Linked DNA regions of Homo sapiens: region 1 is linked to region 2. The links come from fine-mapping of genetic effects on gene expression. A gene starts in region 2. The other region holds a variant in brackets. All regions are shown on one strand. Distances are between the middles of the regions. Region 1 has its middle 11 kb from the start of ACSF3. Region 2 holds the start of CBFA2T3 (CBFA2/RUNX1 partner transcriptional co-repressor 3).

Region 1 (9,640 bases), 110 kb before region 2:
TTCAGAAGCAGCTCTTTCAGCTCCGGTCAAGCTTCAGATGAGGCTGCAGCCCCACAACACTGTGGTTGCAACCTCAGGAGAGACCCCGAGCCAGAGCCACCCAGCCAGGCTGCTTCTGGATTCCACATTTACAGAAACTGTGACATAATAGATGTTCATTGTTTAAGCCACTAGGTTTCGCGGTAATTTGAAGACAGCAATAGAGAACGAATACACTGCCTCAGCCAGTTAGTAGCTGCATGATACTGGGAAACTCATCTCTCTGAGCCTCAGTTCCTCACCTGAAGATAAGAGCACCTGCTGCTAATGGATGTTATAAAAATTAAATAAGGGCCGGGCATGATGGCTCATGCCTGTGATCCCAGCACTTTAAGAGGCTGAGGTGGGCAGATCACTTGAGCCCAGGAGTTTGAGACCAGCTTGGGCAACATAATGAGACCCCATCTCTACAAAAAATCCAAAAAAAAGTAGCCAGACATGATGGTGCGTGCCTGTAGTCCCAGCTACTCAGGAGGCCGAGGTAGGAGGATCACCTGAACCTGGGAGTTTGAGGTTGCAGTGAGCTGTGATTGTGCCACTGCACTCCAGCCTGGGTGACAGAGTAAGACCCTATCTAAAAAAAATTATATAAGATATTCCAGGTAACATTCCTAGGACAGTGCCTGGAATGTGCCTGGACAGTGCCTGGAATTTACGGAACATTTGTTCAGTAAATATTTATTTTTGAGATGGAGTCCCACTGTCACCCGAGGTGGAGTGCAATGGCACAATCTCGGCTCACTGTAATCTCCACCTCCCAGGTTCAAGCGATTCTCCTGCCTCAACCTCCCAGGTAGGTGGGACTACAGGCATCCACCAGCACACCCAGCTAAGTTTTGTATTTTTGGTAGAGACAGAGGTTTCACCATGTTGGCCAGGCTGGGCTCAATAAATAGTTATCATCGCTGTCATAAAATATCTATATTGCAAAATGGGAAGAGTTCAAGATGATCTTAGTTCAACCCGGTGGGCTCAGGAATGCTTTGTGGGAAAAGTAACATGTGAATTGGCCTTTGAAAGAGAGGCAGGATTTGGGCCTGGGGCGATAGAGGACCAGTGTCCTCAGAGAGGGGACAGCATGGACAAAGGTGTGGAGGCTGAAAGGCCGGAGCTTGCTGAAGGCCATTCATACTCAGTTGGAGCTGGGGCCCAAATGTACGATGGGTGGGCAGCTGTGCAGGTGAATGGATCAGGCCAGGAGGTGCTGGAGTTAAGGGGTCTGGAACCTAGATGGAGGGAGCTCAGGAGCCTCTGGAGGGTTCTGTGTCAGCTGTGGCAGGCTGGAGCAGGGAGCTTCGAGGCTGTGGCACCATGTGGCAAGGCCATTCTGATTCTTGCGGGATACCTGGCCTGTGGTAGGCGTGCAGGGGCTGCCGGAGACATGGATAAGCAAGAGTCTTCTTACTCTTGAATCTGATCACCCTGATGCGTCAGCTCACGGATTCTCGCAGGATCAGATATGGCACAGACTGACTCACATTGGAAGAGCTGTTGGCAGAGATGCTGCTGCTGTCGGACCCACATACTCCACGAAGGCGGGAATCGAGCCACGGCAGGAGCTGACGGCACCCGTTCAACAGTCACCAGTCCTCCTTCCTCTCTTCGGACCCTGATCCGGTTCCCATTCCCATCGGCCCTGAGTAAGGGGCTATGGGGAGGTGGGCCCCAGAAGGCGAGTGCTGAGTGGTTGAGGCTCAGTGATGGCTTTGCTTTTTCAGAGACCCTGCCCATGAAGGTGAGGACAAATCCAAGAAGGTTTGTTTCACCACAAAACAAGAGATGCCTCGGGAGAAACAGCCCATTTTCCCCGGTGACCACAGTGTCGTGTGTGATGTCTGGAGTCACTGCAGCCCTCCTGTAGCCGTGAGGACGACAGGCAGATGGAGCCCGTGTGATCCTCAGCTGTGTGATCCACACTCACTTTATCTGAAGCCGCCTCCGCACTTCTGAGTCAAGACATCTTCCTTATTGCTGTGGTTGCTTTTAGTTTGGATTTTGTTACAGGTGAAGGTGCCTAAAGGTGGGGTGGGAGGAGGGAGGGAGTCCAGTGAACAACCAGCCAAGTAATCTGCTTCGTCAGTGAGGAAGTGAGGAGGCATAAGGGGACACCACTCAAGGACCGTTCCACCCAGCTGGGGTTCAAACCAGCACCCTACAATGCGGTTCAGAGTGAGTGAGCGTGGAGCCGTGAGGCCGAGGCGATGGTGAGGGGGCTCCCTAGAGGCAGCAAGGGAGGGGCAGGGGCAGCGCCCGGTCCAGGCACAGGAGGGGCAAGTTTGAGACAGGTGGACGCTGCATCACAGCTGTGGAAGCTGTGCCAGCTTCCTGATGCCAGGCTGGCATCAGGGCATGTGATGGCATCAGGGCATGGCATGGCGTGGGGTCCCCGTCTGCTCCATCGGGAAGGCGTGGAGCTGGACAGGGGCTGTGAGCTCTGTCCTCTGCCAACGCATCTCGAGTGCTGCCCACGCCCCAGGGGCCCCAGGGCCCTTTCCCGGCTCCATGAGTTCAAAAGTATTTTCATAATGATATGAAGATGCTGCCCGTGTTTCCTGTGTGTTGACATTTGCACAGACTGTACAGAAGACATGTGGGTAACACCGCTGCTGCCTTCACCCTGTGAGGCTGCGGCCCCAAACGGCCACCCCCAGGGGCTGTGTCCTCAGCCCGCAGTCGGGGGAGGGCCAGCTCCACCTAAGAATGCCCTTGATGGAGCAGCAACAAGGCTGTTCACGTCAAATCCCATCACGGGCGGCACACGCCACCCACTGCTGCTGCGTTCGGAGGCACGAGGCTTGTCCTGGGTAAGGCCCAAGCCCCTGTCAGAATCAGCTGCTGTTCATGGCCATTTTGACTGGAAAGAACCACAGACAGATGGAGGACAGCGACCCAGACTCGGGTGTTTGGCAGAACGGAGTGAGCCTGACAGTTCCAGAAAAACAGCCAAATGTATTTGTCCTCCTGTGGTACGATTTGACTTTCAAGAAAAAGTTAAGAGACTGAGATAAGCATGTTCACCTCTGTGAACTCAACAGCTGCCCAATACTTACAGAATTTGCTGATATCAGTGATCGTTATTAATTCATGTGAATTTTTACACAACACAACCCGTCAGTGTGTGCACACGCAGCTCAGTGAACCCACGTTTCTCACATGACCGATGTGGGGTGTGGCGGAATCACGTGTGGTGGTAAAAGACCGGTTCAGAGTGCAAAAGAGAACAGCTTTAACGTGCAGCAGGGAAAGCTCAGATTTGGTTTTAGACACCACGGTTCAGCAAACCTTTAAAAAAGTGGCACTCTTCCAGTTTTGGTGTCAAAGAATTCCCATGGTTACTGAAAAGGCAAAATTACAATACCCCTCCCCCGGGAGAAAAGGCTGTTACAATACCCCTCCCCCGGGGGAAGAGGCTGTTGCGGTACCCCTCCCCCGGGGAAAGAGGCTGTTGCGGTACCCCTCCCCCGGGGAAAGAGGCTGTTGCGGTACCCCTCCCCCGGGGGAAGAGGCTGTTGCGGTACCCCTCCCCCGGGGGAGAAGAGGCTGTTGCGGTACCCCTCCCCCGGGGGAAAGAGGCTGTTGCGGTACCCCTCCCCCGGGGGAAGAGGCTGTTGCGGTACCCCTCCCCCGGGGGAAGAGGCTGTTGCGGTACCCCTCCCCCGGGGGGAAGAGGCTGTTGCGGTACCCCTCCCCCGGGGGGAAGAGGCTGTTGCGGTACCCCTCCCCCGGGGAAAGAGGCTGTTGCGGTACCCCTCCCCCGGGGGAAGAGGCTGTTGCGGTACCCCTCCCCCGGGGGAGAAGAGGCTGTTGCGGTACCCCTCCCCCGGGGGAAAGAGGCTGTTGCGGTACCCCTCCCCCGGGGGAAGAGGCTGTTGCGGTACCCCTCCCCCGGGGGAAGAGGCTGTTGCGGTACCCCTCCCCCGGGGGGAAGAGGCTGTTGCGGTACCCCTCCCCCGGGGGGAAGAGGCTGTTGCGGTACCCCTCCCCCGGGGGGAAGAGGCTGTTGCGGTACCCCTCCCCCGGGGGAAGAGGCTGTTGCGGTACCCCTCCCCCGGGGGAGAAGAGGCTGTTGCGGTACCCCTCCCCCGGGGGAAAGAGGCTGTTGCGGTACCCCTCCCCCGGGGGAAGAGGCTGTTGCGGTACCCCTCCCCCGGGGGGAAGAGGCTGTTGCGGTACCCCTCCCCCGGGGGGAAGAGGCTGTTGCGGTACCCCTCCCCCGGGGGAAGAGGCTGTTGCGGTACCCCTCCCCTGGGGAAAGAGGCTGTTGCGGTACCCCTCCCCGGGGGAGAAGAGGCTGTTGCGGTACCCCTCCCCCGGGGGAGAAGAGGCTGTTGCGGTACCCCTCCCCTGGGGAAAGAGGCTGTTGCGGTACCCCTCCCCGGGGGAGAAGAGGCTGTTGCGGTACCCCTCCCCCGGGGGAGAAGAGGCTGTTGCGGTACCCCTCCCCCGGGAGGGAAGAGGCTGTTGCGGTACCCCTCCCCCGGGGAAAGAGGCTGTTACAGTACTCCACTATACATTATCGGTGTGAGGCCAGATTTTCTTCATATAGTTCAATCAAAACAACATATCACAGTAGACTGGATATGGAGGCACACAGGTTCCCCTCTGGCCCACGCAGCCAAGTGTTACAGTGACAGCGGACACATAAAATCATGCCCTAGTTTCCAGAGTTGTTTTGTTTTGGAATTTATAGATATCTTCATAAAAGATGTCGTTGGCCGGGTGCGGTGGCTCACATCTGTAATCCCAGCACTTTGGGAGGCTGAGACGGGCAGATCAAGAGGTCAGGAGATCGAGACCATCCTGGCTAACACAGTGAAACCCTGTCTCTACTAAAAATACAAAAAATTAGCTGGGCGCGGTGGCGGACACCTGTAGTCGCAGCTACTCAGGAGGCTGAGGCAGGAGAATGGCGTGAACCAGGGAGGCGGAGCTTGCAGTGAGCCGAGATCGCACCACTGCACTCCAGCCTGGGTGATAGAGCGAGACTCCGTCTCAAAAAAAAAAAAAAAAAACCAACAAAACGTGTTGTTTATGTTAACATTCAGTGAGTTTATTGTGGTTACTATTGACTTGATAAATATTTTTAGATAAATATTTTTAAATGTTCTCCAATTTCTTTTGAATTTGGTAAGTATCAATAACCATTACCGACATAAACAGAAGCTCTTGGGGTCCTGAATGACTTTTAAAATCTTTAATTCTAGCCGGGCGCGGTGGCTCACGCCTGTAATCTCAGCACGTTGGGAGGCTGAGGTGGGCAGATCACCTGAGGTCAGGAGTTCAAGACCAGCCTGGCCAACAAGGTGTAATTTCTACTAAAATTACAAAATTAGCCGGGCGTGGTGGTGGATGCCTGTAATACCAGCTACTCGGGAGGCTGAGGCAGGAGAGTCACTTGAACCTGGGAGGTGGAGGTTGTAGTGAGCCAAGATCACGCCACTGCACTCCAGCCTGTGCAAAAAGCGTGAAACTCTGTCTCAAAACAAATAAAAATTAAAAAAAATAAAATGTTTAATGCCTATGGGTACATAATTATCTGTGTCTATGGGGAACACGTGACGTGTTGATCACACCAGGGTAATCGGGGCCACTGTCACCTCGAGCCTTTATCATTTCTTTGTGTTAGGAGCATTCCAGTCCACTTTTCAGTTATTTTAAAATATGCAATAAATTCTTGTTAACAATAGTCACCCTATTGTGCTACC[A/G]AATATCTGATCTTATTCCTTCCATGTAATTATGTTTGTACCTATTAACCATCCCCTCACCACCCCCCTACTCCCCACCGCCCTTCCCAGCCTCTGGGAATATCTCCATCATTCTAGTCTCCATCTCCATAAGTTCCACTGTTTTCCAGCTCCCACATATGAACTGAATGATCTCTAAGACTGGGAAAGAGCCCTGAGACCCCACGAGAACAGTTGCTCTGGGGCCACAGGGAGCAGCTGCAGGTTGCAGGGCAGAGCTGGAGACAAGGCCATGGCTCATGAAGATGCCGACCTGGAGGCAGAGGCAGAGGACGTCGGGTGCCGCTGGGGCCATGCAGAGCCAGGACCATGGCTCTGGGAGACGGAGGTGGACGAGGCCGGGAGATACTGAGCGGGTGGCCACAGGATCCACGAGGGGTGGCAGATGTGTTGCGACAGAAGCAGGGCCCCACGATCCAGAGCCTCCTGGGGGGAGAAGTAAGAAAAGAAGGGTCAGCAGTGGGCAGAGACAGCGAGGGGCTGGCAGGAGGGCAGAGTGCACCCTCTGGAGGAGACCAGGCTCTGCCCATTGGGCCACTCAAAGTCATGGGTAGGGAGCGCATCTTCCAGTGCCCAGGGTCTTGCTGTGAAAGTAAGTGGGGTCCAACTGAAGCCCTCTAACTCCAGGAGCTCACGCCAAGCCCCGTCCACTGACCATGTCCACGCCTCACCCGTGTGCCCCCCGACCACATCCGTGCATTACCCGTGTGCCCCTCTGACCACGTCTGTGCCCCATGGGGCCAGAAAACAGCTGCTGATGCCCCAAAGCCCAGAGAAGTTCCTTGTGGCTTCATTTTCCCTCGTCTCTAGGAGGCTGGATCCAGGCCAGTTCTCCGTGGGCAGGAGGCTGCCCTCCCACCTGCTCCTCCACAGTCCTCATTTTGGACAATTGCATTTTTAAAACTTTAAATTATTACAAGTAATATACTCACTGTAAAGAAGACAGATGGAAAAACCCAGATAAACATAAACAGTCAAACACCCCAAACCACCCAGAACGCTTGCCTTGCCCCAGTCGTGCTCCCTGACACGCGTGTGCATGTACGTGAGCATGGTGCGTATGTGTGCAGGTCATGGATGTTCGTGTGCGTCTTTGCACTCTCTTCCACCCCTGCGTCTTCCTTTACTGCCTAAGGCCCATGTCATGGGGACAGGAATTTTGGCATTTGACCTGGAAGCGTTTGCCCCACCTGGGCTTGGAGAGAGTTCTGGGCAGGCCCTCAAAGTTTGCAGGAGCCTCCAGAGGGCCTGACCGTAGCTTAGATGCTGAGTGCATTGCACACGCACACAGAGCCATACACACAAGCTCCGGGCCATTGGCCCCGAGGCCGACCTCCCTCCCAGAAGGTGACGTCAACAACGCTGACTGTTGGGGCCACACACTGGACACGGGCACGATGGGGGCCACGCGCTGGACACGGGCACGAGGGGGGCGGGCCCAGATCATGGGCACGATGAGGGCCATGTGCTGGACATCGGCACGATGGGGCCATGTGCTGGACACAGGCACAATGGCAGCCACGCGCTGGACATGGGCACGATGGGGGCGGGCCCAGATCATGGGCACGATGGGGGTGAGCCCAGATGGAAAGAATGCCAGGCATGGGCATGTGGTGACCCCAGGCCTGGACATGACACGCTCTCCCCACAAGGAAAGAGACGCACAGGCCTCGCTGGGCGGAGTTGTCCAAGTGCCAGACACATGTGTCCCGGCAGCTGGCACTGGCTTGGCACAGACCCGGCTCCCAGGGTCTGGCTTCTACATGTGGAGCGGCGGGCACAGATGCCAGCTCTGCACAGCAGCTGCGAGGGGAGGCCTGGCTGCCGCCTTCTGGGACCTATGGTGGGGACGCTTTTCCTGGAGCCTAGAAACCTTTCCAGATCCTCCCTCTTCCCACCACACTCCTCCTCCTCAGGCCCTCCTTCCTCCCTCTGCTTTCTCCAGCAGTCCCGAGCCCCACAAGGTCCTCTCATCACTCAGCGCCAGGCCTGAGGCACCACCTGCACAATCAGAGCAGTGGCCTCTCCCCATGGCTTGTGCCAAATCAGGGCAGACACAGCATTGTCTGGGTGTGTGGGCCGAGGTCCTGTTGGCTGCATTGTTCCCAGGGTCTCCAAGCCTCCATTTAGACCCCAGAGAGTGAGCCAGCTGGTGCCACCAGTGGGAGGGACCCAGAGTTTCTGAGAAACCCAGAGGCTGGAGGCCTGTGTCCGAGCTGCAACAGCTCCCAAGGGAGAGAACCCTGGGACATGGTGAGGCCCCACGTGAGCCAGGGAAGGCCTGGCCTCGAACAGCAGAAAACACAGAAGCACCCGCCTAATGGAGTTCCCGCAAAGTCGCGCTGTATTCCAGCAGACGGGCCCGCCAGCCCAAGGAAGTCACACGTGCGCCCCTCTGTGCTTGGCCCTGTTGGGTTTATGCACCTCCTCCCAGATGTCCTGCGGCTGGCACAGATCTCTGGTGCGGGCATCGCCTGGCTCTGCAGGAGGGCGGAGGAGGGGTGCCGGGGAGCATGTGGCATGTCTGGGTGTAGTGGTGGCATTTTAGGAGCCAGAGTCCAGGGCCCGGGCGGGACAGATTTGGGGGTGTTTCGGGAGCAAGGTGGATTCATCCATCCACACTGCCTCACCAAAAACAGAGGGTACATGAGGTGAGGACGAAGATGAAAACGGGGAGAAAATGGGGGGTGAGGGTGGGCCCGCAAGTAGGCAGGCCTTGAAACCATCTCACCACAGAATGTCCTCGGGGTGCCCCGGCCACGGGTCCAGGAGGAGCCACCTCCAGGGGAGGCTGGCTTTCCACAGGCCCTAGGTTCCTGGGGCTGGGAACCCAGACGACGGGACTGAGCCACTGAGGGGGACAGAATCCATTTGGTGGAGTGACATGAAGCCCTGGAAATAAAACCGGGTGGCTTTTTAAAAATAAATAACATAAAAAATACACTTAACATAAAAATGACACTAAGGAGGAGAAAAACCATACAGCCATCTTGTATACAAGGGGGTCACATTCCCAGACCCCCAGGGATGCCTGAACCCCACATATCCGATGTGTTTTTGATCTGACAGCAGAGGCAGCTCCTGGAGGACTCACCGGTGCGGAGCGTCCACAGCGTGGACTCGCTGGACAAATGGAGGATCCCCTCCCGGGCGGACAGGGCGGGAGGTGTCAGAGTTCATCAAGCCGTGCATAATTTAAAACTTATGAATTGTTTAGTTTTAGAATTTTCCATTTAATATTTTTGGAGCTCTGTTGACCATGGATAACTGAAACTGCAGAAAAAGGGAAACCCTGGGCCCGGCACACCGGCTCACGCCTGTCATCCCAGCACTGTGGGAGGCTGAGGCAGGCAGATCACCTGAGGTCAGGAGTTTGAAACCCGCCTGGCCAACGTGGAGAAACCCTGTCTCTACTAAAAGTAAAAAAAAAATTAGCCGGGCGTGGTGGTGCATGCCTGTGATCCCAGCTACTCGGGAGGCTGAGGCAGGAAAATCACTTGAACCCGGGAGGCCGAGATTGCACTATTGCACTCCAGCCTGGACAACAGAGCAAGACTCTGTCTCAAAAAAACAAAAAGAAAAACAAACCCTGCTTAAGCGGGGATGTCTGTATTTTCCTGTTTCTTTTTCAGACCTTCATGTCCTTGGAGATACTGTCGGAGCTTCCTGGCAGCGTTGACCAAGCTGCCCCTCCCTTCCTGACAACCTTGGCCTCATCGCTCACCCTCTGGGCTCATCCTGCTGCGGGGTAACCAGGAGAGCCCCGGGGCAGGTGCCAGCCTTCAGGAGGAGCTCTGCCTCCTCTGTTCCAAAATCGGGGGAGGGTCCTTCCCACCAAGGGTGCCAGTCTTCCTTTC
Region 2 (9,515 bases):
GCTTTCTAGCAGCAACGCGCCTGCCCCGGAGGCGGCCATGGCCAGAAGGCGGTGTGGGGATTCCACTGTCCCCCTGGGCTGGCCCCTTCACGGCTCAGGGATCTCGCAGGGGTCACAGCTGCCCGTCCGTGCTTGCCCACCTTCACGGGCACCATAGGAGAGTCCAAACGTGGACGGTTTTATTAAATCCTCACCACACCCCCATTCAGCTGACTCTGTTACCTTCTTACTTTACAGTTGGGGAAACGGGTCAAGACATTTGCCCAAGCGTACCCAGCACAGACAGGAAATGCTGAGTGTGAACCAGGGGCCTGTGACTTCGAGACCCTCAGTGGGGTTCCGGCTGTCCCACCGGAGACTCCTGGAAGCTGAGGTGGTGAGCGGGACCGGGGGACACCTTCGAGGGAAGCTGGAACCGCGGTTCTTTCCTTGGAATTCAGGGGATCCGTGGACTTGGATGAGTTTCATCTGGCATTGTGTCGTGTCTCTAACCAAAATTTAGCCTTTCCTGTAACCAAGAACGTGGGCACCTCCCCAGGGTGTCAGCCGCGCCTGTGCCGTTGACACCGATAGAGCTGCCCCAGGGCCACTTTGGTGGGCCCCAAGCAGCCACGCCTTGGGAGGGTCCAGGGCTCCACAAAAGACCCCCCTCGCCTTCCACTCACCACCACGTCTCCTAATGCGGTTCCCACGCCTCACCACTTTAAATCATGGCTTAATGAAAAGCACAGTGCTCACTACACCAGAATGTTCTAACGGGGTGGTAGCTGTATTTTGGTAAAATGGGTTTCCTTCATAATTCTGTGAACTTATTTGCTTACTAGATGCCCAAGGAGTCCACACACCGGGAAGGTGAAGACCCCGATTCCAGTTCCGTGCTCTCATTGGGGTGTCTCCGGCCTGCGCCTCGGCTCGGACTCCCCAGGTAGACCTGCTCTTTCTGGGGGTGGCAGGAGCGCCCAGTAACTGCAGTCTCAGAGCCCTGGAATCCTGCACCACTTTGTACCAGGTTTCCCCAAATCACCCCAGCCCTCCGGCCATGGCACCTTCTCCGTGGTTCTGGGTTTGCTCAGCCGTGCCCTGAGCTGGGGAGTGGCTGAGCATCCAGCTATGAGCCGCTTCACCTGCACTGCCTTGAACACCCGGGGCAGGTTTTTTCCTGCCTCCACCCCCGGCCCCCACTCCCTCTGTGGCTCACCCCAACTGTCCACACCTTATTCAGGACCAGAAAGCCGGGGCAAGGCTCCTCCGTACATGACACTGTTCAGCATCCTCTGGAGCGGCTTCGCGACTTACATTCCTCTCTCCAGGCTTTGTGACTGGGGATGGCACCCTTGTGGGCCTCCTCCCTCCTCTGTAAAGTGGGCTGGCATGAGACTTACATAAAACCATATTACCACTTATTCATTGATCCACCTATCCACCCACCCACCCATCCACCCATCCACCCACCCACCCACCCATCCACCCATCCACCCACCCCTCTACCCATCCATCCACACATTGACCCACCCACCCATCTATCCACCTACCCACCCATTCACCCATGCACCCATCTATTCACCCATCCATCCATCCATCCATTCACCCATCCACCCATCTATCCACCCATCCATCCACCCATCCATCCACCCATCCACCCATTCACCCATCCACCCACCCATCCACCCATCCATCCACCTATCCACCCATCCACCCATGTATCCATCCATCCACTCATTCACCTGTCTATCCACCCATCCATCCCTACCCACCCATTCACTGATCCACTCATCCATCCACCCATCCACGCACCCATTCATCCACCCATCCATCCACACATTCACCCACCCACCGATCCATTCACCTACTCACCCATTCACCCATCTCTCCATCCACCACCCATTCACCCATTTATCCATCCATCCATCCATCCATCCATCCACCCATTCACTCATCTATCCACTCATCCACCCATTCACCCGTCTATCCACCCATCCACACATTCACCCATCTATCCACCCACCCACCCACACACCCATCCACCATTCATTCACCCACACACCCATCCATCCACCTACCCACCCATTCACCCATCTCTCCATCCACCCATCCATCCACACATTCACCCACCCACCTATCCATTCGCCTACTCACCCATTCACCCATCTCTCCATCCATCCACCCATCCACCCATCTATCCATCCACCTACCCATTCACCCATTTATCCATCCATCCTTCCACCTATTCACCCATCTATCCACCCATCCACCCATTCACCCATCTACCCACCCATCCACCCATCTATCCATCCACCACCCATTCACCCATTTATCCATCCATCCATCCATCCACCCATTCACTCATCTATCCACTCATCCACCCATTCACCCGTCTATCCACCCATCCACACATTCACCCATCTATCCACCCACCCACCCACACACCCATCCACCATTCATTCACCCACACACCCATCCATCTACCTACCCACCCATTCACCCATCTCTCCATCCACCCACCCATTTACCCATTTATCCATTCATCCATCCACCCATTCACCCATCTTTCCGCCCATTCACCCATCTATCCATCCACCCACCCATCCACACATCTATCCATCCACCCACCCATCCACCCACTCACTCACTCACCCATCTATCCACCCACTCACCCATCTATCCACCCATCCATCCACCCATTCACTCATCCACCCACCCACCCATCCACCCATCATCTACCCACCCATCCACTCACCCACCCACCCATTCATTCATCAATCTATTCATTCATCTATTCATCCAGCAGTGAAGGGTGTGTGTGTTGGGGGTGGGGGGGTTCCTACATGCTAGAAGAGAAGGCAAACATAAGACACCCTGCCTGAAGGAAGGCCTCCTCACCCACCCCCACATGGCGTCATCTCCCCCACTGCCCCCTCACCCTCCTCCAGTTCTCTGGCCATCCTACAGATTCACCAAAGCCTGCCTTAGGGCCCCTCTGCCCACCCAGGGACAGTTTCCCCAACTGCCCTATGGGCCCCACATGCTGGGCCATGTTGATGGAACGTGTCTCCTATAGTTCCCAGAGAGCAGGACCAGGGGCTGTCTTGGACACCGAAAGAACCCCAGTAGGCCCTAATAGGTCTTTTAGGAAGGAAGGAAAGGCCCCTCCTGCCCCGAGAGGCTGGGTGCTGGCTGCAGACAGCAGAGGTCCCTGGGAGAAGCCGAGGCCCCTCCTGCTGCCCCCACCTCTGCAGCCACTTCCTCCCCAGCCCCTTATCTCCTGGCCGCCCAGCTCTGAAAGCCACAGCCAACGTCTGCTTCCCCACAAGCACCAACTGCCCGGCCTGGGGGAGAGGAGGCCGGTAGTGGGGAGGTGGGGAGTGGTGCCCACACCCCCAGGTGGCCGCCAAAGTTGGGGGGCAGCTCCTGCCCCCAACTTGTGGGCAACTTTCTTCTCTTCTCTTTCCAACCCCACCTCCGTCAGACCCCCTGATTAGACACCAGGCAAGACGGGGCCAGGCGGGGAGCTCAGGGCCTCATTGCGAAAGTGGAAGTGTCCCATCTGTGGGGGGCGCAGGTGCAGGCCTCGAACATCTGCCTCAGGGCTGGGGGCAGGGCTGCCTGTCTCCTACCCCGGGTGGGGGGAGCCACCACCCTCACCCAGGGTGCTGTCCTGCTGCCTCACGGAGTGGGGGCTGTGCCCCCTGAGACCCTCAGTTCCCCGACTCTGAGACTCTCACTGCACACAGCTGGGGAATAGGCACTGACACAGACCAACCCCAGCCACATGCTCACGGTGGCCCCGGCCCATGTGGCGGCTCAGAGCCTCTGCTGTCTCCACTCCCGGAAACGCTGTAGGAGCTGACGCCGTTAGGATCGTGCACCCTGCACAAATGAGGAAACCAGGAGGGTCAGGGCCCCCAGGACCCTCACTGTGAATCCCACCCTGAGCCAGAGCACAGGGAACAGCAGGGGACGTGGGGACCGAATGATGGCACCAGGGGATGGGCCCCGGGCTGGCAGGAATGTCCCCTCCAGCCTCAGTCCTGGGGGCAGAACGGCCGACCACCCAGGGCAGGGGAGGCCCCGGGTGGGCCTGGCGTCTGGGAAGTTCCCCAGCAGGAACAAACACATCCCCACTGTAAGCTGGACACACACGCTGGCATGCAGCTTGTTGTCACCAACTCGAGAAAGACACTCGACTATTGGGACAGGGAGACCCGGGACACCTGGAGACCCTGCGGGGAAGGAGTCGGCTTTTACTCCTGCACGGCTTGAATTATTAACTGCGTGCAAACGTGACCTAAAACTCAAATCAAATCAAATCAAAATAGCACAGATGCCCGTGAGCCGGCCCTGGGTCTGCGGGCTCCACACCTCTGGCCTGTCTGAGGCCGGGAAACCTCCAGCCATGGCATCAGAAAAGCCACCGAACCAGGGCTGCAGGGCCGAAGGGTCACTGTCCCCTCCCAGGAAGCTCCTGCCCTCTGACAGTTGTCAGGGAGCTTTAGAAAGTGGCTTTTTTTCCCAGCATCTGGGATGTGCCTCACTCTCTCAGCCCAACGGCCGCTAGAAAGGGGTCCTAGGACTCTCCCTAGGGTCTAAGTAGTCCCAAGAGTGCTCTGAGGTGGCTTCTGGAATTTCCCAGACTGGAGAAGCCACCTACCCCCGACCCCCGCAAACTCCAGGCTGCTCACCGGAGGCGGCCGCTGGGGCGTGGGGTGAGGGTCTTTCTGAGGCACCCCCGGAGAGTGGGGGAGCCCTGCTGTCTCCACAGAGGGCCAGGAGCCCTGTGCACGAGGCCAAGCAGAGAGAGAGGGTTTCCTTCCCAGCAGGCGGGAGGTACTTTGAGGACAGGTCAGGTGCCCAAGAACCCCGGAGCAGGGGCTGAGGAGAGGCTGGTCAGAGGCCCCGCCTTGCTCAAGGGCACAGTCAGCAGACACAGGAACACGGGCAGGGTGGCCCCTGGAGCGGGGGCAAACTAAAAGGGGTGCTGGGGAAAGCTCGGCTGACTGAGGGCTAGCGGAGAGGGAGGACACCCCCAGATACCCCAGGCTGAAGGAAGGGCCAAGCCCTGGGGGGAAGATGGGTGGGCGGGACAGGCCAAGGGCTCTGGGCCAGGATGGAGCTGCCCTCAGGCCTGCACACCTGCCCTGGGGCCGAGGAAACACATGCCCAGTGGCCACGCTGTAGGGCTCAGGGTGGGTGGGACGTCACCAGAGCTGCCTGGGAGGAGGAAGTTGTTGGAAGGTCAAACCGGAATGGCCCGAGGGAAGGCCGCGCAGGGCAGGGCCCCAGATGGTTCCTGTCAGGGAAGTGGCGGGCGCAGCTGCAGGCCTCCGGCCCCGGCATTATCACGGGGACACAGCTGGCTGCCTCACCCGCAGGCTGCAGGGAGACCTTCCCCAGCCTGCAGCCCCAGGCCCGCCCCGCGTCACATGAGCCCCAGGGCTCCCACCCCCTCCCCAGGGCAGAGGACACCCAGTTGGTGGCCGGGAGGGCCTCGGCTTTCCAGGGACAGAGGCCCAACTCCAGGACGCCCCAGCTGGCCCAGCCCCTCCTCTTTCCCTCAAGGCTGCAGGAGGTCGGGAAAGGCAGTCCTGGTAGAGGCCTGTCCTGGGCTCCAGGTTGGCCCCTGAGGGTGGCCCTCCTCATGCCGGCTTCAAGACTGAGGGACAGGGCAGCCAGTTCAGCCTCGGGATCCACCTGTGGCTCCATGTCCCAGACGCACCCTGTGCTGGAGAGCGGCCTCCTGGCATCTGCCGGCTGCTCCGCACCCCGGGGTCCCAGGAAGGGCGGCCCAGGTAAGAGGCTCGAGGGGAAGGTGGTGGGGTGGGGGCAGAGAGCGGCAGCCGGTGCCGGGGCTGTGACTCCTTAGAGCTTCGCGGGGCCTGCCCAGCTTAGTTGACAGTGCCGGCACGGATGGCCGTGTTGACTCACCTCAGATATCAACAGGGCCACCCCACAGGCAGGTCCTGCACAGCTGGGGCAGGTGGGCTGGTGAGGGTTTGGCAGGTGCCAGCCAGGTGCCCCAGCCCCACCCAGAGGCAGATGCTGGAGGCCGGGCTGCTCAGCCCCGTCTAGGAGGGTGGGCTGTGTTCTCCTGGGGGTGGGAGGGCCGCAGCCGGGAAGTGATGGGGGGGTCCTAGAAAGAGAGCCCTCCTCCTCCTGGGATGCCCTCCGGGTGTGACACCTCACAGCAGGTTGGATGAGGAAACTGAGGCCAGAGGGGAGGGCACTGGCCCAAGACCCCGGTGAGGAGGAAATGGACCCAACCCTGGGCCCCTGTCCGAGGAACGATTCCAGCCAGGGCAGTGGGGGTTTACGGGGAACCTGGGCCTGCCCTTCTGGGGGCTTCGGGCTCTGGGGAGGGGTCCAGTCCAGCAGGACGCCAGCTATTGCTGATACCCCCCACCCGAGCCTGCGAAGTCCCAGGACAAGGATCCCCGGACGCTGGGGGCTGCAGCTGCAGGCTGGTGGCCCCGATTCCCAGTGGCCCTCGTGGCCACACTCCCAGCAGCCGTCGGAACCTTCAGGAGCTCACAGTCTCCCGTCTCGCGGGGCTCTCACTGAGGCCGTCAGGTCCAAGGTCTGACTGCACCCCTGACACTCACACACAGAACCCGGGACCGAGGGGTGTCCCCATCTCTGGAGACCACATTCCCTGAGCAGGTCCTGGCGGCGGCTGCCTGAGGCTGTTCCCACCTGCAGCTGCCCGTGGGGCCCCAGGGCCATCCCCCACAAGGGCCCCAGATGTGAGCAGGAACTTCCCAACCCCGGGTGCCCGGAATGCAAAGGCCGGACCTCACCACAGCCAGTGCTACTGTTCGTTTCTCCCGAATGGGTGACTCAGAGCCACCTTCAAGGCAGCACCAGCCCACTGGCCCTGGCATCTGCCATCCCGTCCTCTCTGGAGCGGCCCTGTCTATCCCCTGGCGCTGAGTGGCCTTGGGCCGGGTGCTTCCTCCCTGGGCCTCAGTTTCCTCATGGTTCAGACCCTTCCGACCTGCTCCCCGCGTGAGAGCAGGTTCTCACCGGCGCGGAGAGAGACGGGCTCTGAGGCGCATGGAGAGCCGCCGCTTTGTTAGGATGGGGGCGTCTACTGTGGAAGGACGGGGGTGTCTACCGTGGAAGGAGGTTAGGGCCAAGAGGTGGCCCCGTGCCTGAGTCATGCGAGGGGCTGCTGGCTAGAGGCATGAAACAGAGGGTCAGGGCGGGCCTCTGACATGGCTGCAGGTGAGGAGCAGAGGGTCAGGGTGGACCTCTGACATGGCTAAAGATGTGGAGCAGAGAGGGTCAGGGTGGACCTCTGACATGGCTGCAGGTCAGGAGCAGAGGGCCAGGGTGGCCTCTAACACAGAGTACCCAGCCACTGTGCCCACCCCCAGGGAGCCCCTGCTTAGGGGCTGCAATGTGAGGAGGGAGCAGGGTCTCACTTGGGTGCGGGGTCCTGCCCCTGGCTTCTAGGGGCTTCTGTCCGTGCAACCACCCGGCCCTATTCCAGGGTACCCATGGGACAGCCTTAGCCACATCAGGCAGCAGAGTTACATGTGAATACCAGCACTTGGGGCTTCTCATCCTGTACCCCAGGGGCCTCCCAAGGCCCCCAGGGGACAGATGTGGGAGCCTTGTGATGCCAGAAAGCCTCGGCATCAAGCCTCGCCTGGCTGGAGGAGCGGGGGCCATGGGGGGCATGGGAACTGCGGGGGGTCCTGGACAGACCTGAGGGCACCTCAGCCCCACTGTGTGGCTGTCAGGCACACAGGCCTCCCAAGAGTTCCTAAAACCTTTGAGGCCTGAAAACAGGCCGATTGGCTTTAAACTCTGGGGAGAACAGTAATATTTCTAAAAGCTGAAGTAGAAGAACCTTCCTGTCTTTAGACCAAAGGCGTACTGAGCAGGGCTGTGTTGCTGCGCGTTTGGTGGCGGGCAGGAGAGACGTCTGTGTGCTGTGCAGGGGGTGGGAGGACCTCAGCCCCTCGTCTCCTCTGACAGCGTCCTGGGGGCTGAGGTGTAAGCAATCAGAAGATGGCCACAGAGCACACGCCGCCGTCTGGGGGCCGGGACCCCTTCCCTGGGCTCCTTCACCAGCCCCCTCACGCGGAGGGTCTGGATCCTCACTGACCCCTGGGCCCAGTGGTGCAGAAGGAACCCCTGAAGACGGTGCTTGCGGTGCTGGGTTTACGAGGCGCCCGCTGTGTGTGCTCGGAGCTGTGCAGGCTCTCACCGCCTTGTCCCCCCAAGCCCACTTTGCAGAAGAAGAGGCGGAGGTCAGAAAGGTGACCTGACTGCCTCAGGAGAGAGGGATGGGAACCAGGTCACCCGAGGAGGGTGCCAGGGACAGAGATTTTGAAATCCACCTGGCAAGTGTAGGCTGAGGCAGAGAAGTTTCAGTGCCATGTGCTGGGACCTCCATGGGGGAGAAACTGAGTCAGGCCTGCCTGGTGTCACCTTAGAGGGACGACGTGGGATCTCGGGGAGGTGGTGAGCACTATCAGTGGAGGGGTGCAGGCAAAGGCGGGCGGGTGTTATGGGGACCGGGCAAGGCGGGAGATGTTATGGGGACCGGGCAAGGCGGGCAGATGTTATGGGGACTGGGCAGATGCTGTGAAGGCACCATCCGTGCAGGAAGCTTGAGCCCTGGCTGGAGCCCACCTGGCAAAGGGGTCACGTCCAGAGCCTGCGGTCAGCCTGGGCTCCCTCTACCCGACCTTGCCCTTGGGGCTGGGCTTTGCCACCACTCACTCTCCATCCTCCATCCCCTCAAGTGGCCATCCAGGCCCAGCTGTCCTCTGGAATGTTGTGGGTCTGGAACGTCCTGGGTCCAGAATGTTCTGGGTCCGGAATGTTCTGGGTTTGGAATGTTCTGGGTCCGGAATATTCTGCATTGGAAGGTTCTGGGTCTGGAATGTTCTGGGTCTGGATTGCCCTCCCCGGGTGTTTCTATCTCCTGGGGCTGCAGTAAGGATGGGCTGCAAGCTGGCTGGGGGCTCAGAACAACAGAGGCTTCTGTTCTCACAGTGCCGCAGGCTGGAAGTCCGAAACTAAGGCGTCAGATGGCCGTGCTCCTCCAGGTCCTGCCTTCTCCAGGTCCTGCTGGTCCCAGGTGTTCCTGGGCTGTGGCCGCCGTGCCGCAGCCACTACCTCTGTCTTTGCAAGGCCGTCTCCTCCCTCCCAAATCTTCCTCTGCCTCCTTCTTCTAAGGCCCAGCCCACCCTAGGCCAGAGCTCCAGCCACTCACTCTGCACTCCAGGCGGTGGGACACAGGGAGGCACTGGAGAGGCTGCAGGCAGCCCCGGTTATGGGAGGTGCCCCATCAAGGGGGCGCGGTGGGAGGGGGAGTGGACATGAGCAGCCGGGCGGTCTCAGCCCGACTCCTCCTTCAGCCGCAGGCCCTGTGTCTGCTGGGCTTTGGAGCTGGTGGATCATGCAGAGCTCGGCCAGGGTGTCTGTGGGCTCCAGCCAGAGGCAGGGAGGTCAGTGTGTGCATGACAAGACGTCTGAGGCCACAGACAGACAGACAGGCAGCCCCA

The links. PIP is the estimated chance that this variant, and not a neighbour inherited with it, causes the effect. A credible set is the group of variants that fine-mapping cannot tell apart.
Region 1: its variant is the best candidate, but not a certain one, in a credible set for the expression of CBFA2T3 in whole blood (TOPMed, PIP 0.85).

The regions. Positions count from the first base shown.
Region 1 is chr16:89,078,221-89,087,860 of GRCh38, reverse strand. No RefSeq gene overlaps it. Among named protein-coding and RNA genes, the nearest start is that of ACSF3, 11 kb to the left of the region's middle. The variant A/G (reference allele first, on the strand shown) is at 5,745.
Region 2 is chr16:88,972,928-88,982,442 of GRCh38, reverse strand. CBFA2T3 (CBFA2/RUNX1 partner transcriptional co-repressor 3) reads left to right here and starts at 5,236. Exons shown (of 12, transcript NM_005187.6): 1 at 5,236-5,786. The coding sequence starts at 5,636. LOC124903756 (a long non-coding RNA gene) reads right to left here and starts at 1,380. Exons shown (of 2, transcript XR_007065183.1): 1 at 1,214-1,380; 2 at 157-487. RefSeq lists a silencer at 69-271 and enhancers at 4,815-4,864, 6,705-6,914, 6,567-7,111, 9,053-9,212, 9,393-9,462.